Linked DNA regions of Homo sapiens. The protein of the gene in region 4 interacts with the protein of the main gene of each other region in a pairwise test. Each region holds a gene or a part of one and is shown on either strand. Other genes may lie near its edges. The genes, in order: ZDHHC15, OPRM1, TMPRSS2 and C2CD2L.

Region 1 (7,027 bases), on a different chromosome or scaffold from region 4:
GAGTGGGTGTGCATTTGTTCTAGGGGACCCTTCAGGATATTTTTAACTTACTCTCCAGTATTTGATGAAATAGCTGAAGACTGTCGTAGCAATGTACAGGCAGTAGAGAACAGAGTAAGCTAAGAATTGAAGGAAGAATTTGTAGTTGGAAAATCCAATGCAGTTATTAACCCTAAAAAAAAAGAAAAACTAATTTGACATCAGGACCTCTTGATTGAGAGCACACTGATACATAAGTGAACTAAGCAATGGAATAATGCTAGTTCTGCTGCTTCATTATGTGTCGTGTAAAAGCCCAATAGAGATAGAAGTCCCTTAATAAGAACAAACTGGATAAAACAAGTTCATGTCTCACTTGTTTATTCTTTCATTTACAGGCACAGAAACACCTGGCCTGCCTAATAGCTCTGGACTGGTTCGTGACACATCCAAGCAAACCTGGATCCTGGTTGCTAAAAATGTATTACAGTTTTAGCAGCTACATTTGGTACAGTTGTGGCATGTTCTTTTTGTAGTTAGGTGATTTCAGACTGGCCCGCAGGGTCTGATATACAAAATTTGGAAAATTGCTGAATTTAACATTCTAGAATATTTCAAACATCAAGCCAACTAGAAACAGAACTGAATTGTGTAATGTTAAAAGGAGAAATGTTTGTGCTGTATTTCATTACTATGCTCAATTGCTAAAGTTAATGAATATGAGACCATTAGCTTTGTAACTCCAGGAATTCACTACCATACCTTTGGTGTTATATTTTTTCTTTATTTAAAATGTTACCCCTCCCCTGTCCCCTACAGAAATATAAAACCCAGTGAATTATGGTGGCAGAAACAGGCATGTGACAACTATGCTTAGAAAAGTGCATATAATTGAGCAACTTTGACCCCTTTAGAGGAGAGAAATGAATCAAACAGACATACCAAGGGCAGTGATGATCCATTTTTAACACACACCTACGAAGGGGACAAAATACAGTGTGATAAGTGAGGCTATGGAAATGAAGCAACATCTCATAATTAAACTCAAGGTTTCACCAGTATTTTTACATGGTTCTAATAACACCCATTCTCAGATTTCCACTATAGTGACTCCAAAACTGTGGCCCTCAGTTATTTCTAGGATGAGGTAATCACAACAACACTTTATAGGATCATGCCAGCAGCAAGTTACATGCTTATAAGTCCAACCTTTCAAAGGGATTGGAAACTCCAGATTATTAATACAGAGAAAAGGTTCAAGATGTCTCCTATCATTTTATTCAATACTTAGTTTAATAAAAATACAGAAGAAAATATATGGCTATAGCCTCTATCTGAATCAAGGGTAAGAAAAATATGGGTGGAATAAGTACTCAAGAGAAAAGGCATTACATGTATCAATATAAAAATGGGGTTTGCAAAGCTGGAACAATTTGGGCAACAAAAAAGTAGTATTGGGTTATAATGCAAAATGTAAAATGAATATTTATGCTTTCATACTGATATAAATAAATGATTGAATAAATAAATAAATGAAGAGAAGAGATAAATGTCCCAAGCAAAATAACTTGAAATAATTTGTGTAGATACTCCACCTTCAAGGATGGAGGGCATAACTTTCCATTCCTTTAGTGTTGGCTGTGCATAGTGACTTCCTTTCAAAGAGTAAAGCATAGAAAGGAAGAACAATTTTACAGTGGTGAAACCTGACATACTACCTCAGCCAGATGATCAAAATTAACCTTTCAGTGATAAGTCATGTTTATAGGTACCCTTAATATGATGTAATGAGAATGGCACCTTACTCTGTCGTCTTCCTCCCCCAGATCATATTACCCCAGTCTAACAATGATGAGGAAAGCATCAAACAAATCTCAATCAAGGGACACTCTATGACCTACTTGACCATTAATCCTAAATACTGTCAAGGTTATCAAAAACAAGTCTGGGATACTGCCACAGCTAAGAGAAGCTAAGGAGATGAGACATCACTATTAAATGTAATGTGGTATCCTGGATGGGATCCTGGAACAGATAAAGGACATTATGGAAAAACTGAGGAAATCTAAATATAGACTTCAGTTAAAAATAATGTATCAGTATTAGTTCATTAATTGTAACAAATGTATCATACAAATATAAGATGTTAACAACAAGGGAAACTGGGTGTGAGACATACAAGAACTATCTTCACAATAAATCTGTAAGTCTAAAACTGTCCACAAATACAATGTTAGTTTTTAAAATGTGGTCTTACTTCTCTTACTTATCTTTAGAGTAGCTTGGATCATCATCATCCGTGTGAGGGGTTTTGGCATATGCTCATTATAATTGAAAGGAAATGCTCTTATCTAGGTATGATTACATGTTAGGATCAGTCATTTTGTTGTCTAGGAAACCTTCAGTGGCCAAGCCCAGCCCAGGGGAAATATGGCCGTCACTTACATAGCACAGACAGAGCAGTGGTGGCAGCGGTCTGGCTTGATCAGATGACACCGGTCACAGAATCGTACAGCTATAAAAAAAAAAATAAGGTGGTTAGCACTTGTTAGGGCTCAATATAAGACCTTATATCTTACTAGCTTATCTGGATGACTTGTTATGCACTGATTATAGATAGTCAAACTCATCTCAAGTTACCAAGCAAAAGGCAGACTACATAAGAGAATTGGGGTATATATTTTTTTCCTTGTTGTATCCAATTTTGAAAGCACTTTTGGGGGCTGAAAGGAACGAGAAAAGTTTCTTATCTGGATATCTGTCATAAGATCTTTCATTATAAAACAAACTATACTATCAAATGCTTGAGGGATCTTGAAAAACCATTTAGCCTCTATTTACCCCCAACTTTCTGATCTGAAAATAAGGATTCACAGTTTATCTCCTGTCTCCAGAGGTTGGATTGTATGTGGTGGATAACACTCCTAAAACATGGTAAAGAGAGTGGTTTCTAGAATAATAATTTGGGGAACAGAAGAGACATTCTAGAACAATTAGTTTAATTGACCATTTCACAGATAAAGGAAATAAAGATCTGGGTCATATCAAGTGATTTGCCCAGGGTCACACAGCAAGTTGCTGGCAGGGCTGTGACCTGTACAGTTTTGATGATTTCTTATTTTAGGATTCTTTTAACTCTGTAATTCTTATTTTAGGATTCTAATATAAAAAAATCATTCCTCCTTCCCTCCCTCCTTCATTCCTTCCTTTCTTCCTTCCTTCCTTTCCTTTAGATGAAAGGTATTTTACTTTCCCTCTCATTTTCTAGATGTTCATTGATAGAGTACGACTGTGTTTAATGTGATTATTAAGTATAAAAACTAAAATGATGAATAATTTGAACTAATATAATCATTTCATCTAAAGTGTACATTAAGCACATATTACTGATTCAACACAATAGACAGTTAATTCAGCAGAGATTTGTGTTTACTTCCACTAATGGAAGTATGTGAGTGACTAAAGTCGTGGGTATAATTGAGTCAAAGAGGAAGGGAGAAGAACATGCATATCTGGGTCCTTTTGCATATTTTAAAATATACTGTCAATGCTCCTATCCTCATTTAAGCCACATTGTCTCTTAGCTAGTTGACTGCAATATCTGTGTAATTTATCACTCTGCTTTCATACTTGCCCCTCAAAAGACCTACTATACAGAGTAGCTGGGTGATCTGTCAAAATCTACATCAGATCTGGTGTAGTGGCTCATGTCTATAATCCCAGCACTTTGAGAGACTGAGGCACAACTATCGCTTGAGACCAAGAGTTCCAGACCAGCCTGGACAACATAGTGAGACCCTGTCTCTATAAAAAAATAAAATAAAATAAATTAGCCAGGCATGGTGGTGTGCACTTGTGGCCTCAGCTACTTGGGAGGCCGAGGCGGGAGGATTGCTAGAGCCCAGGAGTTCGAGGCTGCTGTGATCCATGAATGAACCACTGTACTCCAGCCTGGGCGATAGAGCAAGATCCTGTTTCTAAAAATAAAAAAAAAAATGTAAATCAGATCATATCACTCTCCACTTAAAACTCTCAATGGATTTCCAACACCTTCAGAATAAAATCCAAACTCCTTACCATGGCCTGTATCATCTAGCCTCTGCCTATCTCTTCAAATGAATCTTGTAAAACTCTCCTCATACTATGTTCCAGTGAAACTGGCTGCCTATCTGCTCTTGTAATCAAGCTTGCTCCTGTTTCAAGGCTTTTTGTGCTTGCAGTTCCTTTTGCCTGGGATGATCATCCCTCTGCTCCTTTTGGTATGATGGTTAATTTTACTTTTTTTATTTCAATAGGTTTTTGGGGAACAGGTGGTGTTTGGTTACATGGATAAGTTGTTTAGTGGTGATTTCTGAGATTTTGGTGCACCCACCATCTAAGCCGTAAACACTGTACCCAGCATGTAGTCTGTTAACCCTTGCCACCCCCTACCCTTCCCCCTGAGTCCCCAGAGTACACTATATCATTCTTAGGCTTTTGCATCCTCATAGCTTAGCTCTCACTCATAATTGAAAACATATGATATTAGGTTTTCCACTCCTGAGTTACTTTACATAGAATAATGGTCTCCAACTCCATCCAGGTTGCTGAGAATGCCATGATTTTGTTCCCTTTTTATGGCCAAGTAGTGTATATTTTTTATGGCTGAGTAGTGTGTGTGTGTGTGTGTGTGTGTGTGTGTGTGTGTGTGTGTATATATATATATATATATATGTAACATTTTCTTTATTCACTCATTGGTTTGGGCTGGTTCCATATTTTTGTAATTTGTAATTGCAAACTGTGTTGCGATGAACATGCCTGTGCAAGTGTCTTTTTCATATAATGACTTCTTTTGCTCTGGGTAAATACCCAGGAGTGGGATTGTTGGATCAAATGACAGATCTACGTTAGTTCTTTAAGGAATCTCCATACTGTTTTCCATAGTGGTTGTAGTAGTTCATATTCCCACCAGGAGTGTAAAAGCGTTCCCTTTTCACCACATCAAAGCCAACGTTTATTATGCTTTGATTTTTAAATTACGGCCATTCTTGCAGGAATAAGGTGGTATTGCATTGTGGTTTTGACTTGCATTTCCCTGAAAATTAGTGATGTTGAGAATATTTTCACGTTTGTTGGCCATTTGTATATCTTCTTTTGAGAATTGTTTATTCAGGTCCTTAGCCCACTTTTTGATGGGATTGTTTTTTTCTTGCTGATTTGTTTGGGTTCCTTGTAGATTCTGGATATTCGTCCCTTGTCACATGCATAGTTTGTGGATAATTTTTCCCAGCCTTTGGGTTGTCTGTTTACTCTGCTATTTCTTTTCCTATGCAGAAGCTTTCTAGTTTAATTAAGTCCCATCAATTTATCTTTGTTGGTGTTGCATTTGCCTTTGGGTTCTTGGTCATGAACTATTTGCATAGGCCAATATCTAGCAAAGTTTTTCCAATGTTATCTTCTATAATGTTTATGGTTTCAGGTCTTAGATTTAAGTCTTCGATCCAACTTGAGTTCAGTAGATTTTTGTATATGGTGATAAATGAGGATCCAGTTTCATTCTTCTACATGTGGCTTGCCAATTATCCCAGCATCATTTGTTGAATAGGGTGTCTTTCCCCACTTTATGTTTTTGTTTGCTTTGTCAAAAATCAGTTAGCTGTAAGTATTTGGGCTTATTTCTGGGTTCCTATTCTGTTCCATTGGTCTATGCACCTATTTTTATACCTGTACCATGCTGCTTTGGTGACTATAGCCTTGTAGTATAGTTTGAAGTCAGGTAACGTGATGCCTCCAGATTTGTTCTTTTTGCTTACTCTTGCTTTGCCTAATGCGGGCTTTTATAGTTTCACATGAATTTTAGAATTGTTTTTTCCAGTGCTGTGAAGAATGATGGTGGTAGTTTGATGGGAATTGCATTGAATGTGTATATTGCTTTTGGCAGCATGGTCATTTTCACAATATTGATTATACCCATTCATGGGCATGGGATGTGTTTCCATTTGTTTACGTTGTCTATGATTTCTTTCAGCAGTGTTTTGTAGTTTTCCTTGTAGAGGTCTTTCATGTCCTTGGTTAGGTATATTTCTAAGTTTTGTTTGTTTGTTTGTTTTCTGCTATAGTAAAAGTAGTGGAGTTCTTGATTTGATTCTCAGCTTGGTTGCTGTTGGTGTATAGCACTGCTACTGATTTGTATACATTAATTTTGTAACGTGAAATTTTATTGAATTCATTGATCAGATCCAGGAGCTTTTTGGAAGAGTCTTTAGGGTTTTCTAGGTATATGATCACATTATCAGCAAACAGTGACTGTTTGACTTCCTCTTTATTCATTTGGATGTCCTTTATTTCTTTCTCTTGTCTGATCACTCTGGCTAGGACTTCCAGTACTATGTTGAATAGAAATGGTGAAAGTGGGCATCTTTGTCTTGTTCCAGTTCTCAGGAACAATGCTTTCAACTTTTCCCCATTCAGTATAATTTAGCTGTGGGTTTGTCATAGATGGCTTTTATTACCTTAACATATTTCCCTTCTATGCTGATTTTGCTGAGGATTTTAATCATAAAGGGATGCTGGATTTTGTCAAATGTTTTTTCTGCGTCTATTGAGATGATCATGTGATTTTTGTTTTTACTTATGTTTATGTGGTGTACCACATTTATTGACTTGCCTGTGTTAAACCAACCCTGAATCCATGGTATGAAACCCACATGATGATGATGGATTATGTTTTTGATATGCTGTTGAATTCGGTTAGCTAGTATTTTGTTGAGGATTTCTGCATCTATATTCATTAGGAATATTGGTCTGCAGTTTTCTTTTTTAGCTATGTTCTTTCCTGGTTTTTGGTACTAGGGTAATATTGGCTTCATAGAATAATTTAGGAAGGATTCCCTCTTTCTCTGTCTTTTGGAATAGTTTCAGTAGGAGTGGTACCAATTCTTCTTTGAGTGTCTGATAGAATTCAGCTGTGAATCCATCTGGCCCTGGACTTTTTTTTGTTGGCAATTTTTTTATTACCATTTTAATCTTGCTGCTTGTTACTGGCCTCTTCAGAGTTCCCATTTCT
Region 2 (7,027 bases), on a different chromosome or scaffold from region 4:
CTGGAACGTAGTTTCTGGGATTGTAACCAAGGCTTTAATGATGACGTAAATGTGAATGGGAGTCCAGCAGACGATGAACACAGCCACCACCACCAGCACCATCCTGGTGATCCTTCGAAGATTCCTGTCCTTTTCTTTGGAGCCAGAGAGCATGCGGACACTCTTGAGGCGCAAGATCATCAGTCCATAGCACACGGTAATGATGAGCACTGGCATAATGAAGGCGAAGATGAAAACACAGATCTTCAGCAGGTTTTCCCAGTACCAGGTTGGATGAGAGAATGTTAGTGTACAATCTATGGAACCTAGAAGAAAGGAATTTAAAGGAAAAATTAGCAGCAACATTTAATTATGTCATAAGGTGTTAATACTGCCATTTTGCTCATTCATTTTTAGCCTTGACCAGAGCTAACTTAAGGCTATAAAGAAATTGTGGAAGAAACTCAGTTGTTTGTTACTTTTCAAAGAAAGTTTTACTTCTAATGTTTTTTGTTTTTTTCTAAATTTCCCATTTTGCAGTCCACTTCGATCACATTAAGCTTTCGTTCAGGGAACAAAAATGAACCTCTCAACATGAGCTAGATCCTCCATGAGGTCTATATTGATATAAAAAATGTAATAATTGTCCAAAGTCTCTAGGCGGCTCCAGGTAATGGATGTTTTCACTTCATTTTTTGATGGATTGTTCAATATTCTGATATTAGGTGTAGAAAGATACATTTGCCATGTAGTCAGCCACTTGATAATTTTAAACAAGCCTCAGTGTAATACTCTTTGGGTTTAAGCTCCAATTACTCTTGGGAGAGCTATGTACTAATTTACACACCATTTTTATGAAGTAAATACAGAGAAATCAGAAATAAATAGATTACATTCTCTTTAAAGGATTTAATAGGCCTAAAATTATGAGGAAAATTCCTATTTTTAAGTATTCAAAGGCTTTTTTTGCTAGGAAGAATAATTAAAATTACAATGTGACTAAGACAATGGGGCACTCCATAAATACTGCTTTGCTTATGACATCACCAACATATCAGGCTGTGAACCCTCCTTCCCTCAGGCTGGTAACATCACTCACCTTGCCTGTATTTTGTTGTAGCCATGAACATTACAGGAAGACCAATGGCTGAAGAGAGGATCCAGTTGCAGACATTGATAATTTTGGCATTTCGGGGAGTACGGAAATCTAAGGCCTTGACAGGGTGGCAGACTGCAATGTATCGATCAACACTCATGGTGCAGAGGGTGAATATGCTGGTGAACATGTTATAGTAATCTATGGAGATCACTATCTTGCAAAGGATGGTTCCAAATGGCCATGTTCCCATTAGGTAATTCACACTCTGGAAGGGCAGGGTACTGGTGGCTAAGGCATCTGCCAGAGCAAGGTTGAAAATGTAGATGTTGGTGGCAGTCTTCATCTTGGTGTATCTAGGAGATAAAGGAAGAAGAGTGAGAATCAGTAAAAGACACTAGTGTAAAATATAGGTAAGCTTCCAATAATAAATTTGCATGAATTAGTAGAAAGCTTTTTTGAGATTAGATATAGAATTGTTTTCCAGTATCAGCTTGGCTATTTACAATGATGTCAATGATGTACCTATTGGCTAAATAGCTGCAATAATAGCAACGATGCTGCTTTGTTGAGTTTCTTCCTTTTTTTTTTTTTTTGGATAGGATCTTGCCCTGTTACCCAGGCTGGAGTGTAATGGTATGAACAGAGCTCACTACAGCTTTAACCTCCTGGACTCAAGAGATCCTCTTGCCTCACCTCCTGAATAACTGGGATCCCAGGTGCATGCCACCATACCCTGTTAATTTTAAAAAACTTTTGTAGGGACAGGGTCTTGACATGTTGCTTAGGGTGGTCTTGAACTCTTGGGCTCAAGCAGTCCTCCCTCCTCGGCCTCCCAAAGTGTTTGTGTTACAGGCATGAGACACCACACGCAGTGAGGGTTTTAATTTTTTTTTTTGTAATGTGTCAGTCATTGTGATAGGTCTAATAGAAAGAGGGAGATTCCAGTCAAATAGTAGGGGCAGCGACTGGATAGTAATTCTAAATATAAAAGAGAAAATTTTAGCTATATAAATATAGTTAAAATTATCAAGAAGTATAATTGTGCAAGTGTCTATAGGTATGTACACAAACACATGCACATACAAACACACAGGCGATTATGGGGCACAGAGATGAGGCATCTCACAGAGCATAAGGCAAAGGGAATAGTAGGAGTAAGATGTGGAAGGCATCCTGGAAGTGCAAGTTTAATCTCAAAGCACAAGCAGGATGATTGAGTTAGACACTTGGTAGGAGCAGGTCATTCTAGACAGAGAGGTAACAGAGAGAACCCCAACAAAGATGTAGAGTTGGAATGGCCTGATGTGTGTGTCAAGCACATTCTACCAGGGAATGGCAAGGGATCTGACTGGGGAAGAAGAGAGGCCAGTACATGAAGAACTTGTATGCCATGGTAAGATTAGACTCTATCCAATCCATGATGAGGAACCCAAGTGTGTTTGCTTTGTTTTTATTTTTTAATGCTTTATTGAGGTGGAATTGACCTATAATAAATAACGCATAATTAAAGTATACAATTTGATAAGCTTTGATACGTGTGTACACCTGTGAAACCACCACCATAATTAAGATCAGAGATTGGCAAACTATGGTGTGTAGACCCAATTGGACCGTTGCCTGTTTTATAAATAAATACACCTATTTAAAAACCCATAAGTGTTTTGATGCTACAATGGCAAAGTTCAATAATTGCAACAGAGATCAGATGACATGCAAAGCCTAAGTTATTTACTATCTTGCACTTTACAGAAAAAAATGTCAACCTCTGATGAAGATAATGACATCAATTGCTCCCAAAAGTGTCTTTGTGTAGCTCTTTAATCTTTCCTGTTTGCCCCTCCCTGTCCTCATATCCAACCCTCACTATTCCTCAGGCAATTGCTGATCTTGGTTTGCTTTCTGTTCTTATAGATTAGTTTGCATTTCCTAGAAGATGCAAATAGAATCATTCAGTATGTACTCTTTTTTTGTGCTGCTTCTTTCACTCAGTGTCATTATTTTGAGATTCATCTATGTGGTTGCATATAACAAGAATTAATTCCTTGTTATTGACAAGTAGTATTACTTATGCATTCATCTGTTTTTTTTTTTAATCCATTCACCTATTAATGGGAACTGAGTTGCATACAACTTTTGGATGTTACAAATGAACTGTTACGAACATTCATGTGCAAGTCTTTATATAAACATATGCTTTTCTTCCTCCTGGGTAAGTATCTAGGAGTGTTATATGTTTTCAAGGCCTGCAGAAATTAGAAATATGATAGTAGAATATAAGCAGGTACACTTGCAATAATACATTATATCTGATGGCAGAAGTATACCTTGTAAACATTGGACATCATTTTTTTTTTAACATTCCACATATATTTACCTTAATTTAGTAATAGTACCTCAGTTTCACTCTGGGAACCACTCATTTCCCGTTCTCAGTCCAGGTGCTTTGGGATAGGCTGTATTACCAGTCCAGGGCGTGAAGACGTTTAGTGACCGGGGCCATGGTGAATGGCAAGGATGCTCTCATGTTCCAACCAGAGCCAGTGAGAGTTTATTTTGAGACTTATGGACAAAGAGTGTATTAGTTTTCCTGCAGGACCCACACCTGAGAAGACGCATGGTATGTAGTTGCTGGAGGAGCTTGTCTGAAAATGGACCTAATCCGGAGGATGTGGATTTGAGAGCGTGAGAGAGAACCCCACACCTGAAGCCAGGCCCTCCTTGGGCTTCTGATTTACACGGTGCCATCAATTCCTTTTAAATGTTAGCTTGTGTTTACTGTTTTTCCGTCACACGAGGTTGAGTCTAACTCATTCAGCCCAAGACAGCTGTTGGTTGGAGGCCCTTTGTTTAGGACTGAATTCAGTGTCCAGGAAAGTGTTTTGGTTTCAATAACATCAGGAAAGTGATTTCATAAATCTCCTCAGGGTCAATAGGACAGCTTTGTTACTGAAGCTTTAAAATTCTGATACCTGATCTGGTCTGCAATACTTGCAGAAGCTGCATTACTGCCAGAAAAGCTCCACATTTTCAGACTTGGGGGCTTTTTTTTGGACTTACTTTGGGAGTTTCACTTTCTTAATGGATTTTAAAGAAAAAGATAGAGCCATTTAACTTGAGGAGAGAAAATAATTTGCTTTTAGTTTGGACTTTAAATATGGCAAATATAAAAAGGATAATGTAGACAAATACTCCAAAGTACAAAAACCAACAAAAAAGCAAAATTAAAACTGTGGTTTTAAGATTTAGAATAATTGACCTTGGTGCTCAAGAAGTTGAAACATTTTTTATTTTTTTAATAAGAAGAAGTTTCTCCCCAAAAGAGAAAATAACTTTTGCTAGATTCACCGTTGGTTATAGACCTGCATGATCTAAAGACATGCTTCATTGCATTTGCCACTTTCCTACCCAGCAGACCTTACATTTCGTGGCTTATCTTTAATGGTGTTTTATGTTAAGTAATTGGTTTCTTTACAGTCAGTTTTCTGACTCATCATACTTCCAACCTTTCCTTCAGGCTTATTTTAGCACTAAGTATTTCCAATGTATGTTTATTTTAATTAAAAAAAATCATTTCCTTCTCCAGAGTGAGGTGTTTGTGGAAAAAAAAATTATGTCAGGGTTCAACATGGTGAAAGGAAACGTGGTTATGCATAGTTAATTAGCATGCTAGCCATTCCACAATGTGTATACATTTCAAAACATCATGTTGTATATGGTAAATATACATAATTTTATCATCAATTTACCAAAAAAAAGTGAATATTTATCTATAAAAATTCTTTCAACGGGCATTTTATAGGAATGATGCTGTTTAATTTTTCTCAATTTATTTAAAAAGTCTTCCTCTAAAGATAGCCAGCATTCTTACCCCAGTTACTCATGCTTTGGATCACAGCAACATATAAAAGGGGGCTCAACGATCTTCTAAATATGTGAAAGAAAATTATACAAAGCTAAAGGATTAAGAATTCCAATTGCCTCCAGCATATACCCAAAGGCTTTAATCTGAAGAGATGGTCTAATCAGAAAAGGAGTAATGTGGGCTGGGCCTGGTGGCTCAAGCCTATAATCCCAGCACTTTGGGAGGCTGAGGTGAATGGATCACTTGAGGGCAGGGGAAGGAGACCAGCCTGGTCAACCCTGTCTCTACTAAAATTAGAAAAATTAGCTGGGGGTGGTGGCAGGCACCTGCAATCCCAGCTACTTGGGAGGCTGAGGCAGGAGAATCGTACCACTGCATTCCAGCCTGAGCAACAGAGAGAGACACTGTCTCAAAAAAAAAAAAAAAAAGGGCAAGCTTTCATTCTGTTCTGATGTGGTGGCATGAATGTTGTCCCAGCAAAGTTCAATGAATGCTCAGAGTCACATCATGGGCCTTGCACAGGAGCATAGGACTCAGAGTTAGCAAACTAGCAAAAGAAATGACCTGCAGGAAGAATTATCTTTGCCATTCAGTTTACCTGAGTGGGTCCGAGTAGAACTCCTGGCTATTAAAACACAAGCCTTTTTCCTTACTCCATGCCTACTGCTTTGTACTGTGCTGTGAATGTGTTCTGTGGCAAAATGGGCAAAGAGAGACTCATCTGGACTCACAGGCCATCCTGATATTGACCCTTCCTATGGTAGCCACTGAACTCCATCTTCTGCTCGAAGCAGTGGCCCAAGCTATTTCTTTCTAATTATCCCATTAAAATTTTTGTAGTAGGTATTTCTTTAACTTTGGTCTAGATGATTAAATAGCTCTTTTGTTTTATGAATTCAAATGAATTTACAATGCTATTCGTTTTTGAAAAAAATTGTGTTCTTCTGAGAACCATCGATGTTTGACCCATTAGAGTGATTTTTATGGAACTTCCAGAAGTGTTGGGGAAAAGGCATTGTGAGGCCCATTTGCTGGCAGCTCACCTATTCTTTTATGTTGCATATATGACTTTTGTTTATAGATGTTCTTCCTTTCTTATGGTTATAAAATAATTCTTATTTATCTTTTGACCTATTCTTCACACATTTCTCCAACTATTACTACTTACAAAATGTGATTGCTTTTGACCTATTTGTGTTAAGTGAAGCCAGACTAAATAAATTACCTCTGTACACCTGATGGGTTTTGTAAACTTCTGTTTAGTTTTGTGGTTAATTATTTGAATTGTGGTGATCGTGTCTCAGTTCAGAAATAAAACTGATCAAGAGAGTGAGAGGAGGAAGGACACATTTTAGAATCCAGCATGTGTGTGTGTGTGTGTGTGTGTGTGTGTGTGTGTTTAATTCCACATCATGGCCTTCATATTGCTCAACTACCTTTTTCATAAGTTCACAATAGAGTCAATGGTGATGGACGGAAGAGTTTCATCTCTTTTGGGGCTAATTTTTCTGCCTTTTCATTTTTTTTACCAAGTAGTGTGAAGAAAGATACCTAATTCAGTAAGAATTCAACAAGCCCCTTTTATATGTTCAGCAATGTGCTTGGAAAGATATATTTCTTGCATTTGCCATGACTTTTATGTCCACTTACCCTCACATAGAAATTAACCTTTTTAGTCGAGAAAAAAATCCTCCCTAGAGTGTCATACTTTAATACTCATATTTAATTGGATCAATCCAATGAGATAAAGATACTTTCCTACATTTCAAGTAATTATTTAGGCAAAGAATATGGTCAAATGAGTATCTACCTGAGTTAATTGATCCATTATTATCCATCTATTCCATTCTGATATCCCAGGTGCGTTTTTACTTGTGAGTGTGTGTGTGTGTGTCTGTCTGTCTGTTGGGGGGGGAGGTTCTAAAATAAGAAAAAGCATAATCAAAACTAGTGATTATCCTCTCATTGGCATTAACATGGAGAAAGACTATATATTAGGTTGCTATTTTGTATTATATTCTCCACTAGCTTAGTGAAGGGGAGAATGGAGGACTTCTCACTTTGCTATAAAATGTTGTGAAACATTT
Region 3 (7,027 bases), on a different chromosome or scaffold from region 4:
ACATTGAGGTAGAAAGGAAAGGTGAATGGTCAATGGAGTGCTTGTTCAGTTTTGGTTGCTGAAGACTTGGAAAGTGGCCTTGCTAGTGGGGAGAGTGAGGGCAGGGAGAGCTCCCTGTGGGGAACCAGAGAGCCCAGGAGCATTGAAGGCCCAGGTGCATTTCTGCTCTCTGGTCCCTCCTGCTCTGCACTCCCTGAGTGTCCCTCATCCCACAGTCACCAGGCCTTTGCTACTCTTCCCCGCCCCTCCTTACTTTCCAGGACACCTGCCAGGGGATCCTCCAATATGGGATGCACTGCGTGGCCTCAGGATTGGGGTGCAGGAGCATTATGTACCTGAGAGCTGAGGCCTGTATGGAGTCAGCCTTTGTGGGGCCCCTCCTGGCCCTAAGGGTGATTTGGGAAGCCCTGACTTGCAAGCACCAGGGGTATGGGCCTGGGTGTGAAGAAGGGGGCTTATGATGTCCCCATGGCCATTGACCACCTTGGCCCCACCGAGCCTGTGGACACCCAAGGAGGAGCAAAAGGGGGATCTGTGACAGGGTAGCAGCTTGGTTGAGCACACAGGCAGCTCTTCAGCATGACCTAGAACAGAGGCTGGGCTCCAGGAGGAGGCAGAGCCTGATCTGGGACTTGGTTATTCCTGGTTGCTGAGCAATGGTCAGGAGAGAGGAACTGAATGAGTGGAAATGCGCTGGTTGGGAGTCGAGGCTGGTTTTCTGGCAGGGGTGTGGGTGGTTACTTTTGTTGTAAACAGAGTGAAGTTTGAGAGGGCAGGAAACTCGAAGACAGGCTTTTCATCCTCCTGGAGGTGAGTCTGGGAGAGGGAGGTGAGGGCTCTGACATCTATGTGTGGATGGCGCTGAGCCATTGGGCATCCATGGCAGGAGGGCAGGAGGAGTTTAGGGCACAGAGTTGTGGTAAGAAAGCAGGAAGTGTTTGAAGGGCACCTTGGCTTGTGGTTGTGGCAGCAGAAGTCTGGAAGTTCACTCAAGGGCAGACTAGGTGGAAAAATCGGGGCTGTCAAGTGGGACTCAGAATGAGAGGTTGTGACAATTGGATTTGTTAGAAAAATATTTTCAAGCGAGGTCTGACTTGGCAGATGGAACTAAGCTGAGGCTTTTTATTATTGCTTGTTTGTACGAGGTGCACAATGCAGTGTCAAATTCCCTTTAAGGCCATTGCTTTCCAAGGGGCTGTCCTGGCGGGGCACTCAGCCTGACCCCACTGCAGTATAGCCCAGGGGTCATGGGAGACCATGCTTTCTAGGGACGATGGGCTTGGAGTTCTTTGTGCAAGATACTGATAACAGAGAATTTGCTGACATTTTCAAGTTCACTGGTGATGATGCATTTATAAGGAGTTGGGAGTAATATGAAAGATCACTATGTCTGGTCTTGATGCTCAAGCCTAATTCTGTTCTGGAATATGTTGGAGAAATGATCCTCCAGTCTTGAAACATACATTTTTAGGTTTGAGGAATTCGGTACATTCTAAGGTAGCTCCAGGCCATATGTGAACTTTCTAATTGTTGGAACCTTGATTTCCCCAGATAGAATCCAAGCCTGCTCTTCTGGAAATTCTGATCATGATTCTGGTATTGTCCTTTGGATGTATGCAGAATAAACTGAATTCCTTTTCCACATAGCCGGCTCTTACGTGTTGGAAGATAAACCTTATCTGCCATCATTATGTTATTATTGAGTGCTCACCATGGGTTGGGCACTGAGCTACGGCCTTGCTTTCTCACTTAATCCCTGCAACAACCCTATTTCTGTATCATCCCCATTTTACAGATTGACTTGGACAAGTTCTTTAAGCCTCAGCCAGTGGCTTGTGTGTGGTGTTGAAGTCTCCGCCTGGAGTGACCTGAGGGCCTCTGCCGCCTGCCTGCCTGTCATGCCAGGTTGCACTCAGCTTGAGGCACCTGGACTCCTGGGAGGTCACCCACTGTCCTGACTTGGGCTGCTGGTGTTGTCTGGGTGTGGGCATCTTATCGCCCTCTGCTAAATTTCATCTTACTCATTTGGCCTTTGGAACTCAAAAAATATATATTTTTTCCTGCAAATTGCATTGTATTTCAAATTTACATTTCCGATCGTCTGTTGTTGGTATATAAAAACACATAGATTTTTATATTGATCTTGTATCCCTCAACTTTGCCAAACATGCTTATTAATTTTTCCCCAATAGTTTTTGGGGTACAGGTGGTAAGAACTCCATAAAAACATTTAAATACTGTCTTTGTAAGCTACAAAGTGAGATTTAAAAAACAAACAGAAAGAGAGAGAACCAGACCTGATATCTGCCCTAAAAAGTTTGTAATCTCTTTGGGACAATGAGTCATTCACAGGAAAAGAAACTTGGATGATGCAGGCAATACCTCTCCTAAGGTGATCTTTCTGTTTCTCGCTCAACCTTTCTCTCTCAGTAGAACTCTTGTGCCAATCATTGTGTATGCAATTTACCTGATTATACATAAACAAGTTTCTGCTGAACAGCCACTGAAATCCACTGTTGGCTAACTCATTTAGTCATGCATTCTATCCTTAGGAGGATAGAACATCTCGTTGTATAATGTGATATTAGTGCGGTTATTTTGGCATAAAGGGCTCTTTTTGATGATTTGGTCATTGGCTGGGATGTGTCCGTGGATGGTGGTGGTGGTGCTGTCTGGATTTTGAAGAAGGGGCACTGAGTCTGAGGCTGTCTGTTCCCTCTCACACCTCCAGCAACTCGAACCGTACCAGTCACAGGTGGGGGCTTCGAGAAGGAGAAGGTGTGTGCACAATGGTGCACGGTGAGGTCAGTGGAGACTTCATTGCAGAGAATACCCCTGGATCTTGGGTGGGAGTCAGTGTCTACAAGCCTAACTTCATTCGCGTTGGCTTGGTTGTTTGGAAAGTAAGTCTCCAGTAAACGTGTCCTGAGATCTCCAGAGGAGAGAAACTAGGAGAAAAGATTCTTGTTTTGGCAGTAACTTCATCATGTCATGGGATGCGGATACGATGCCACAGCATCGTCCTGCTGCATGGTGGCCAGGCAGGTGACTCATGGGCTGACTCAGCTCTCAGTCCAGGATGGACCAAAACAGTGCGAGGACAGCTGTGTGCCATTGTGAGATTCAAGTGGGTGACACTGTCTGTATTGAAGGAAGAGCTCCCTGCCAGCCAGGAATGGAGCCTGAGTGCCACCCACTGTTGCTCTTTCACACTTAAAGGAAAATTTCCCCAAGTGCTCATGGTGGCTGGCTTTCCAGAATTGAGAGCCATCATCCCGGTCCTTTAAATGACAGGAGCAAGCATTCGCTAAACAGCATTGTCTCTCGCCATCTACTTTACGTCTTGCTCCTTTCAGAAATGAGTTAATGCGATGTACAAGCTTGTGTGAATGAGGAAATGCCTGTTTTGAAGATGAACAGGACTGAATGTGATTTCCTGGTCTTTTCGGGACAGCAGTGCTTCCCCTTGCAGATCTAATGTCAGAGCGGGACATTCCCCCCCTTGTTTTATTTTCAATTGGAGAATGTTGTTGTTGTTTCTTTTTTTTTTTTTTTTTTTTTTTTTTTTGAGACAGAGTCTCTCTCTGTCACCCAGGCTGGAGTGCAGTGGCCTAATCTTGGCTGACTGCAACCTCTGCCTCCCAGGTTCAAGTGATTCTCCTGCCTCAGCCTCCCAAGTAGCTGGGATTACAGGCACCCACCATCATACCCAGCTAATTTTTGTATTTTTAGTAGAGATGGGGTTTCACTATGTTGGCCAGGCTGGTCTTGAACTCCTGACCTCAGGTGATCTGCCCGCCTTGGCCTCCCAAAGTGCTGGAATTATAGGCAGGAGCCGCCGTGCCCGGCCCAGCTGGAGAATGTTACTGGCAGCATCACTCTGGTCTTCCATTCCAAAGTCCATGGTAACTGACTTGGGCACACGGAATATTTTTGTTTATCATGTTCTGATTGCTGGAAGAGATAGGATTATCCTGTGACTGCCTCTGGGTCCCATGGCTTTTATTTGACAATTAATGGTGGTGGCTCCCGGTGTTCCTTCCTTCCCTGGCTTCCTTGTTAGGGATCGTGAATGAATAGCAAGTGTGGGTTTTGAGTATTGATTCTTCACTCCTTTCAGAGGGCTTCTGAGCTGGGAGAGCTGCCAATGGGATCGAATTTTCACTTCCTGAAACTTCAACCAAACCTGTAACTGGGGAGATAGGACAGCCGAGAAACCAGAGGCATGAGGATGTGTTTGGTTAGGCAGGACTCTTTGAAAGCAATCTTAGGATGGTACTGAGTTCTGTCCTGCTTATGAGACAAGAATGCGGGATTTATTGTGTTGTCAAGCCTGAGGATCCTCTCTCTTCACAAAGCAGACATAGGCAAGGTCTGTTAAGATGTGGCTAAAAGGCTTAAACGTTTTTGATACATTTTAAATGGTGATCCTTCCCACCTGTACATTAGTCACTTTCCTTTCCTTATACCCAGGAAGGTGTGAACTTTAGTTTTAATCCTAGAAAAAGTCCCAAAGCTACAACATGACCTGGTTCTTGTATTTTTATCTGTAATTGAAGAGTAAATAAATGATTGGTGCATGTTTGTTGTAACCTGTTGGGTGAGGTTTCTCGAGACTAAAAAGCCATATACTCATTTTCATTCATGGCAGGCTGTTGGGGTTTTATAGTTTAATGATTCAGCAACCAGTTCTGCTTAGGACACAGGAAAGCGATGGTGTACTGAAGCCGGCCCCACTCTACTTGGCTCCGTGGTGGGCTTCATGTTGGTAGCCTGGGAATACTTACCGAAGGCAAACCTGCGAATCAAGACAGCCCTCTTTTCCTTCAGCAGGTTGTTAAATGTTTATCAGCTTTATAATTCCTCTTATTTAATGGAAAGTTATATAGCACTCATTTTATGCTAAGCATGAAGCACTTCATTAGTATTAACTCATGGAATGCCCTGGAGGTAGGTGTTACTATTATCTGCATTTGCAGATGGGGAAACTGAGGCACAGAACCTTCAATAGCTTCCTCCAGGTCATGGAGAGTGAGTGGCTGAGCCTGAGTTTGGATCTAGAGTCTAGTCTCAGAGGTCAGGGGCTGAACCGCTGCCCAGTGCTGCCTGCTGCTGTTTGAGCACCTGCTTTGTGCCAGCAACTGGGAAATATTCTTCTGTGGCCATGTCACAGACAGTGGACACTGGTCTGGCCAGGTCCGAAGCCCAGAGCCTCCTCCAGGTTCTTGTTCCCTCATTGGGAACATGGTCTTGTGGACGGATAATCTTGAACCCCGTTTCTTAAAATATTCTTTGGTCATTTAAAGCCAAGCGGGAAGGGGTGGAAAAAAGCCCTTTATTTGCTCAGGAAGGTGCATGTTAAAGAAAAAAAAATCGTCCAATGAGACTTGTTAAAATGGTGAAGCGAACTTTATTCAGGACCACGGAGGCAGGTACAGGGACCACAGCCAGCAGATTTTGCAGTGGGAAGAAGAGACTGGGATCCGCTTGAGTACAGTATGGGCAAGTGGGAGTTAATTTATAACCAAGGATCAGGGTGGGGTTGGTGGGTGGAAAAATCACAAAGAGAAAACATCAAGGGTAAGGGGGATTCTGGCTAAACCAACCAAACAGGATTCTTGCTGAAGACAGGCTGGGTGATCAGACATCACCTGTGGCACGGTGGAGGCTGAGGAACCCGATCAGATATCCAGAGTGATCAGATACCGAGGGTGGGAGGTTCTGGCTAAACTGACTGAGCAAGGTTTTTTGCTAAAACTGGATTTTACAAGGAAATGCACAGATGGCCTAGAAGGTTCAGGAGCTTGATATAAGTTTGATCAAGCGAAGAATCTTTGTCCATGGAGAGTGATGTCAGAATGCGGCTTTACTATACAGCATTTCGTGTTGACGGCATCTCTAGCTATTATTGTTAACTGTTCACAAAGGACAACAAGCAAAATGGCCCACAGCTTTCTTTTCATTACTGCTAATCTTAGCAGTGGTCAAAATGGTTGGCTCTGAATTTCTTTCTTTTTTGGGTTTGGGGTAGTAAATGGAGTGACTGTGGACATGTTTTATGGATTATTTTAAGCGTATGTATCTATTAAAAATTGAGAGGGCCCACATGGCCTGCTTTAAAAAGTCAACTGTGAGCTGTATTTGGTGCTGAGCCCTGAACCACCCGCTGGGCAGTGGGTGGCTACTGGCAGTGCCTGTGGACGTTCTCGGGGAAAGACGGTCTGATTGCACCTGCTCTTCCTCAGTTCCTAGTACTGTGAGGCACTCTTTCCCCACTCTCCCACAACCCTCAGCTTAACACAACTGTGGTGATTGCTTTGTCCGTTTTCCCATGAGGACCCTGAGATTTCAACAAGGTTCAGTAACTCACACATCGACACTTCCAGGGAGCTGTGTTGCCAGGAACTGGCCCAGGTCTTTCCCTCCTGGGCCCATCTTGTCCTTAATCTCTGCTGACATTGATGGGTTTAGTTACCTTGTCGTGTTTCTTCAGTGTTTTATGCCATACAGTCTCCCTTGAGTAGATGTTCTGTATAGGGGATATCACAGCTTCCTGGTGAGAACTGGGTTAAGTCCAGCAGGATGCCTGGGCTTAGTGGCACTGGAGTTGTGGGTGGCCTTGAGCCCCAGGCAGTCCCCTGAGAGCCCTTCCCGATGGATGTTTGAGTCACTGAGTGTGTTCCTTCTTCTTTCTGGTCAGGCTGTCCTGGCCGCTGCACTTACAATTGCACCCCATCCTCCTACCCACTCTGATCCCAGAGGAGAGTGCTTCTGCTGTAACCTCTAAGGCACAAGTGGGTCCCAAAGTCCTTAAATATGGAGGGATGTGGGGAAGCAGTGGTGAAGATGCAGGCCAAAGGTCAGCAGGCAACACTGGTCTTTGTTGTAGGTAACCTTCATCTAGAGATTCTTCTAGTTCTTTCCAGATTTATCTTCTAAAAACTAACTGGTATGGAAATATTACAGTCCTGTAATTCTTTCTTCTAGGTCATATTGAACATTCCAGATACCTATCATTACTCGATGC
Region 4 (7,027 bases):
GAAAGGGGAATGAAGACTAACCTGTACTAGTTGATTGAGTTTTTTGCTACAATTTCATACTCCAGAGCCTCCTGTCTCTTCCATCCTTTCTCTGCACACCCCTTCTTCCCTGCAGGAACTTCTTAGCAGATCCACAATGTGTGTCATCTACCCAACCTCATTATCCGGGCCCCTGTCTCATCCTCCCACACCATCCATGTCACAGCCTGGCTGCCTACTGCCTTTCAAAGGATAACCAGTTGTCCAGTTTATAAACTCCAATTTGACTTTAATAAATTAAATTCCAAGCCATCACACAGCAATGGACATCATCATCGTCTCCCAACACACAGAGGTGCAGCCTTGCGTGGCTCCATCATCACAGTCTTTAAATAAAGCCCCTAAAGCCATCTCTCTGGGGAAGGCTTCCCACCAGGCTCCCGGCTCCCTCCTTCCCACAGAGCCACTGCTCACAGAGAAGGCATCAAGTACAAAAAACGGTAATAAAGGGGGAGGGAGGGATGAGGAGCAGGAGGGGAGGCAGGAAGGTGGGGAGTACCTGCCCCCCATCCCGGGCCGGCCCTGCTCTCTGTGAGCTGCCAACATTCTCAGAGGCAGACACTGGTGCTGGTCTGAGTGGGGACCTGAGGGAGGTGTGGGAGCCCCATCCCAAAGGGAATTACCCACCCTCCTGGGACAGAAAAGAAGGGTCACCTGGGAGAGATGCCCTCTATCATCTGTTCACGGAGGGTCCTAAGCCACACATATAAATAGAAAAGAGAATAAATAAGGGAAGAAGGGTCAGCTGAAGAGCTGAGCACCCTGGGACTCCGCTCAGGGACCAGGCTCAGCAGGAGGCAAATGCTTCTGGGGAATACCCACACATGCCGGACAGGGCCCTCCTCTCCCTCCCAGCCACCAGTCCCTCGTCCATGTCCTCGGCACCGGGTGCCCACCTCTCATGTGCTTCCCGTTCCAAGTATCCTTCCAACCGGCCCCATGGCCCAGGGTGGACGGGGCTTCCCGGAACCCAGAGGGCTTTCCTGGCCCAGGCACTGGAGATCCAGGAAGGGGTATGGAAGGGGAGGTGGGGAATGGGCTGAGAGAACTCGTGCCCTTTCAGAGCTGGGTCCTCAGAGCTGGGGGCTGGGGTTACCATTGGCCTTGGGTTTGGATTTGAAGGAAAAGCGCTTGATAAGGCGGCGAGAAAAGCTGCCGGCCTTCTTTCGGACACTGGGCGTGGCCGTTGCGTTGGAGAGGTCATCGTGTGATTGGCTCAGGCCAGCTTCCTTCTGCCTAGGCCTCCGGCGGAAGATGAGCTTAGTGCCGCTGCGCAGGAAACTCACTGCAGGGGAAGAGGGGAAGCTGAGGCAGAGAGGGGCACGGGGTGGGGTGAGACGGGGGCAGAGACACGATGGAGAATGGAGGGAAAGAGGATGTGGACAGGATCAGTCCCGTGGCCCAGAAGCCAGGCTTCCTCAGGAAAGAAAGCAGAAACATACTTCTCCATAAGGCTTCGTGAAAAAAAGAAAAAAGAAAACGAAAGCAGAAACAAACATGTGCTTTATCCTTCCTGAGGCAAAAATCGTGGTACTTGTGGGGATCTGTGTACAATCTTAACTCTGCCCGCAAAAGAGATATCACGGAGCTGGCCGCTTTGTGAGGACAAACTGGGATTGGGCCTCTTTCCTATGGGAAGACAAAAGCTACCAGAAGGTACTCCCAAAAGTCTATAAATCATGAAGGGAAAGGTAGGTTGACACTGACTTGTTAACCGAATTCCAGGCTGTGAGCAGGAAGTGGTGCATCTAGAAACTTCAAAGAGGTAAATTCAGAACCAGTATAATGAGCAAGGTGCTCACCCAGCAGGCTTTGGAGGTAGAAACCTCATTATCTCAAGAAGTGATGCAGGCTTAAAAAATAGATAGATAGATCCATGGTTGATAGTCTCACTGGTAGAGGAATGAAGATGTTTTAGGGTGAGCCTCTCATCTTTTAAAGTTAGAAGAACTACCACCACTGGTCACTGCCTGTCTTGCTGCCAGATGGATAATCCAAGGGTAGGATTTCTTATACTCATTGGGGAGAGGGTGCAGATTGAAAGGGAAGAATTTTTTTTTTTTTTTTTTTTTTTTGAGACAGAGTCTCACTCTGTCACCCAGGCTGGAGTGCAGTGTCATGATCTGGGCTCACTGCAACCTCCAACCCCCCAGTTCAAGCGATTCTCCTGCCTCAGCCTCCCAAGTAGCTGGGATTATAGGCGCCTGCCACCACGTCTGGCTAATGTTTGTATTTTTAGTAGAGATGGGGTTTACCCATGTTGGCCAGGCTGGTCTTGAACTCCTGACCTTGTGATCCACCCGCTTTGGCCTCCCAAAGTGCTAGGATTACAGGCATTAACCACCGTGCCCAGCCATGGAAAAAAAAAATTTTTTTTGAGACAGGGTCTCACTCTGTCACCCAGGCTGGAGTGCAGTGGCACAATCACGGCTCACTGCTTCAACCTCCTTGAACCTCAACCTCCCAGGCTCAAGGAATCCTCCCTCCTCAGCCCCCTGAGTAGCTGAGATTACAGGTGTGTGCCACTACGCCCAGCCAATTTATTGTATTTTTAGTAGAGATGGGGTCTCGCCATGTTGCCCAGGCTAGTCTTGAACTCCTGGACTCAGGTAAGCCACCCGCCTTGGCCTCCCAAAGTGCCGGTGTGAGCCACCACACCCTGCCTAGGAATAAATTTTTATAATTTTTTTTTAAAGGGCAGGAAAAATGGCACTTAGACTCAGGAAGAAAGAACAATGGAGGTAAAGGGAAATAATTTGGCATCCCTTCCTATCACAAGCATGTCAGATCTAGGCCAGGAACCAAGGCACCAAGATCCCCCTCTAGGCTAGCTTGGCTGAACTAGGCTGGGAATCCGGCTATCTCTTAGGGGAGGAAGGAGAAGGCACACTGGCTCGAGGTCCCCCAGGTCATGATATGTGTATAAAAGAAGAGATGAGGGGCACCCTGCCAACGTCCCCCTACCTTTGTGATCCTTGAGGCTGCGGGTCTCCAGGGCACCAGTGGACCCCGTTTCCGACTCAATATCATCCACAGATGGCCTCTCAGAAATATCCGAACGGGTTGTCTCGTCTGCTTCCTGGACACTTGTGGGACTAGAGAGGGCATCTAGCGGTCCTGGAGACATGGCTGGTGGGTCTGAGGGAGGTGAAGAGGGGCCTCCGCTGGTCCCTGCATCATCCTGCACTGAGGCTTCCAGGGATGCCGCATAGCCCAGGGATAGCGCCAACTCGTCCTGAGCAATGGGCACCTGGCAGGAGGGACGGGTTTTAATGGGCAGGAGTGACCGACCCATTAGGGCTTTCTCCCCATCCCAGCTCCTCTCCCCAGAGCCCTGTTACCTTGGAAACACCAGAGATGATGAGAGTGCTGCGCTTGGTGGGTGTCTTCTTGGCCACCCGCCCACTGGGCTCTGTCAGCTGGCGAATCGCTGTCTCTGCTACAGGGTCCAAGCCGTTGGAAAGGTGGCTGTCCCCTGCTAGGGGTGCAGAGAATGAATAACCTGACTTCTCCCTGGCTCTTTCTTGGATTGGAACTCCTCCTATCCCACCCAGAGTACTTTTTGATGCTGGGGCACCAGGGCCAACCCACACTCATGCACCCCATTCCCCACTCACGGCTGCTGCTATGGGAGGTATTGCTGGGGCCACTGCTCTCACTCAGCACAGTTGTCGTCTTCTCGGTCACCTCCACCTTGGACGGGGAGCGGGAGGGGGAGTCTGGTGGGTGGGGGAGGGTCAGTGAGCTGGGAGTTGCTTCAGAGTGGCCCCCACCCCTACTGTCTTTGTTGAGATGCAGACTTTGGGTGACTCAGAGGGCAAGAATGATTAAAGGGTGATTAATCACAAGGGTGATTAGGAAGATGCCGTGGGGACTAAAAGACACCCCAGGAGCTAATGGGAGTGTAGGAAAGTGCCATGGGGCCTGCTGAAGGTGTGGGGAGATGCTATGAAAATATGGAGCGGGGACAGAGGGGGTACTGGGGCTCCCTGAAGTTGGGGCAATTCAGTGGGGCCCCTATAATGGCAGAAGTGCCATGGGGGCCCACTGAGTGGGGTAGAAATGCCACAGAGGCCTCTGGGTTTGTTGGAGGACCCCAGGGGGTGCTGGAGGGCTGAGGGTAGCAGGATGGACAATTATAGTCAGCTGGGGCTAAGGACACCTGTGAAAAGCCAGAGGGGAAGCTGGAAGGTAGGAGTGCAACAGTCCTGTATGAGGAGGGGCAGGAGGATCCAGAAGGGTGGCAGAGTGAGAGGAATTGCTGGGGAAATGGCAGGAGGTAAGGGAAAGTTTGGAAGAGACAAAGATTGGGAGGAAGATGTGGTAGGACTGGAATGGAATGTCTGAAAACAGGGGGAGTTGGAATTAAGGCTCTCTCCTCTTTCACTGTCCTGCCTTGGGTCTGCAGTCCCGGGCCCCTGGCTAGAGCTGGGCTCCCAGGCTCCTTCTCTTTACCTAATTTGCCGTCTATACGGGGCCGGGACTGGACAGTGGTGACTGTGGTGACAATGGTGCCATCGGGCATGATGGTCCGGTCAAGCTCAATCTTCTTGGTAGGTGTGATGCTGGGGCGTGGAGTGGAGGAGGTGGGAGTACCCAGGTTCCGGGGAGAGCCCTCCTCATAGTGAAGCTGCCCAGGGGTGGGAGAGAGAAGAGACAGAGCCTCGGAGACTGCCCATCCCCTGTGTCCTCCCACCTACCCCAGGGGTCAGCTTCTCACCTCCACTGCCATGGTGGCTGCTGGTCCCAGGGCTTTCCCTGGCCCTGGGGTGAGTGGGCACAACTGTCTTCGAGACAGTGGTCTGGAGGGGGAGCCCACAGGCAGTGTGGCCTGGCCTAGGAGTTCGGCTGGGGAAAGGGATGGCACTGTGAGCTGGGCCCATGGCCAGACCCCACTCTGTACCCACCCAGGGGTGCCCCTCCCACCCCTCACTTACTGTCTCCACAGCTGCTGCTCCTCAGCACTTTGAGGGTCAGCTCCCGGCTCTGGGGGCCCAGATCCCTGTGGGACAAGAGGAGATGGGGCAGGAAGGAGAAAATTAGCAAGCTGAACCCACACTTGAGTGGATCACAGGCCAGAGGCAGAGAGCTGTGTACATAAATAAAACGGCATAAATGCTCCAATCAGATTCTCCTGGCCTCCAAATTCTCTCTCGTCCCAAGAGAAAGGGACAGGGCCTGAGTGGAAACCATGCTTCTCAGCTATGCATTCAAATCCTCCCTGGTCCTGCTCTTCCTGTCTTGCCAGTCTCTCAGTTGCAAGCCACCCTCTTTCATTTGCTCCAGCTCTTCCCTCTGCCGAGAATACTTTCACACTCTGATGAAATCCTACTCTTGCTCTAAAGTGTGGTTTAAATGTCATCTCCTCCATGAAGCCTACTCTGATCCTTATTCCCTCATGGGAATTAATCTCCCCCCCACCTAGGCACTCTGACGGCACATTACATAAACCTCAACTGGAGCGGTTTTACCATCTTCTTTATGTACACCTGTCTCTGCCTCAAGCTTGTCATTGACCCAGGGGTGGGGGCTGTATCTTGGTCAAGTCTGTATCCCTAAGACCCACGCCAGGGCCTGGCATACAATAGGAGCTCACGCCAAAGGCTACTGAAAACAGAGCTGATTCCTGCAAGGACTGTGCTGGAAAGGTTTGATCCTCTCTGCTCTGGAGCATGGGGTCGGGGCAGGGTTACTCCTTACAGTGCCAGGTCTTCTGTCCACTCCACCTCGGATCCAGCCCTCGCGGGCTTGGTCCACTTCTGCTGCATGGGGTTGTCGAGTTCAGCTACACAGCACAGTTCCTCGGTGCCTGTGATGAACCAGAAGTTAGAAGATGCTCAGATCAGAGATGGGAAGTCACTGCAGAATAAAGAGGCTGTACCCTTGGCAGAGGGGCAGAGAGCATCTGCAACCAACCATAGCCTTGGCAGTCCCGCAGCCACTTCCAGCTCTCACCTTCCAGCTCATTTCCCAAGTGAGATGCCCGAAGCTGCCGTAGGAATAACCGGTTAGGTCTGGGGATGGCTGGCTGAGCCTGGGGCATCATGGGTGGCTTCTCACTGGGTACCTAAGAGCAGAAGAAGGTCCAAAGAGCAAGAATCCTGACATAGCACCCTAGGAACAAGGTGCATGCAAATCTTTTGCTTTGGGTGCCAACTCACCAGGCCTCCTGGGGCAGAGCAAGCCCTGAGGTTGACCATCATGGCTGGCTGGGTGCTGACTATGGCATCCTTGATCAGTTCCTCAATTGTGGAGAGCTCCACTTGTTCTTCACCTCTCTGCAGAGAGAAGAAGGGAACAACAAGGAGGTGGATCCCCCACCTCTGCCTCCCTCCCCGTTCTGCCTCTTCTCTGCCAGCTCTGCCTCCTTACCTCCCTGGCCTGAAGCTTGGGAAGCACCGTTAGGCTGAGATCTGGGCGATCAGTGAAGGCCCAGGATATGAGCAGCCCCTCACCAGGGATTTCCTCCAGGTTGACTTCCAACTACAGACAGGAACAAAGTGACTGGGCTGACTTGCCCCATTTACCCAAGGACTCCTAATTCGAGGACTCTCCCTTCCTGAATTCCATCCCAGAGAGGAAACAAATGGAAGAAGCTGAGCCAATGGAACCGCCCCTGCCCAACTCAGTTTCCCACATCCCCTTCTACCTGTGTTGGTGGCAGTGTCAGAGTGACGTGGTAGGTCTCCATGGAGACGGCAGCGGGGGACTGCTGGGTCACAGAGACTGGGAACCGCACCTCCTCAGCAGAGAGCTGGCAACGCAGCACCTGAGACCGGCGAGGTGGGTCAGATGTGGGGGAAGGGTGCTCACCCTGCTTTGAACTGCCCTGTAATAGTTCAGCAGACCCCTCCCCACTTCCGTTTTCCTAAGGACTTCATGTTTTCAGGATCATAAATCCCTAAAAGAATCAGATAAATGCCAAAGACTCCTCTCCCCAGAAAAATGCATATAAACACACATCCAACATTTTGCACATAACTTCAAT

The links.
Region 1: the proteins of C2CD2L (region 4) and ZDHHC15 interact in binary tests that used the Homo sapiens proteins (3 or more experiments, as listed by UniProt).
Region 2: the proteins of C2CD2L (region 4) and OPRM1 interact in binary tests that used the Homo sapiens proteins (3 or more experiments, as listed by UniProt).
Region 3: the proteins of C2CD2L (region 4) and TMPRSS2 interact in binary tests that used the Homo sapiens proteins (3 or more experiments, as listed by UniProt).

The regions. Positions count from the first base shown.
Region 1 is NC_000023.11:75,429,027-75,436,053, forward strand, and holds part of ZDHHC15 (palmitoyltransferase ZDHHC15), read right to left. Parts: intron 2,495-7,027; coding exon 2,425-2,494; intron 955-2,424; coding exon 922-954; intron 173-921; coding exon 52-172; intron 1-51. UniProt on the Homo sapiens protein: Palmitoyltransferase that catalyzes the addition of palmitate onto various protein substrates.
Region 2 is NC_000006.12:154,084,230-154,091,256, reverse strand, and holds part of OPRM1 (mu-type opioid receptor), read right to left. Parts: intron 4,751-7,027; exon of another isoform or gene 3,453-4,750; intron 1,496-3,452; exon of another isoform or gene 1,432-1,495; coding exon 1,079-1,431; intron 306-1,078; coding exon 1-305. UniProt on the Homo sapiens protein: Receptor for endogenous opioids such as beta-endorphin and endomorphin. Receptor for natural and synthetic opioids including morphine, heroin, DAMGO, fentanyl, etorphine, buprenorphin and methadone.
Region 3 is NC_000021.9:41,498,150-41,505,176, reverse strand, and holds part of TMPRSS2 (transmembrane protease serine 2), read left to right. Parts: intron 1-6,987; coding exon of another isoform or gene 6,988-7,027. UniProt on the Homo sapiens protein: Plasma membrane-anchored serine protease that cleaves at arginine residues. Participates in proteolytic cascades of relevance for the normal physiologic function of the prostate.
Region 4 is NC_000011.10:119,110,342-119,117,368, reverse strand, and holds part of C2CD2L (phospholipid transfer protein C2CD2L), read right to left. Parts: intron 6,809-7,027; coding exon 6,689-6,808; intron 6,523-6,688; coding exon 6,412-6,522; intron 6,318-6,411; coding exon 6,201-6,317; intron 6,107-6,200; coding exon 5,995-6,106; intron 5,849-5,994; coding exon 5,740-5,848; intron 5,042-5,739; coding exon 4,977-5,041; intron 4,888-4,976; coding exon 4,760-4,887; intron 4,670-4,759; coding exon 4,495-4,669; intron 3,759-4,494; coding exon 3,657-3,758; intron 3,518-3,656; coding exon of another isoform or gene 3,515-3,517; coding exon 3,381-3,514; intron 3,290-3,380; coding exon 3,004-3,289; intron 1,345-3,003; coding exon of another isoform or gene 1,325-1,344; coding exon 1,113-1,324; 3' UTR 1-1,112.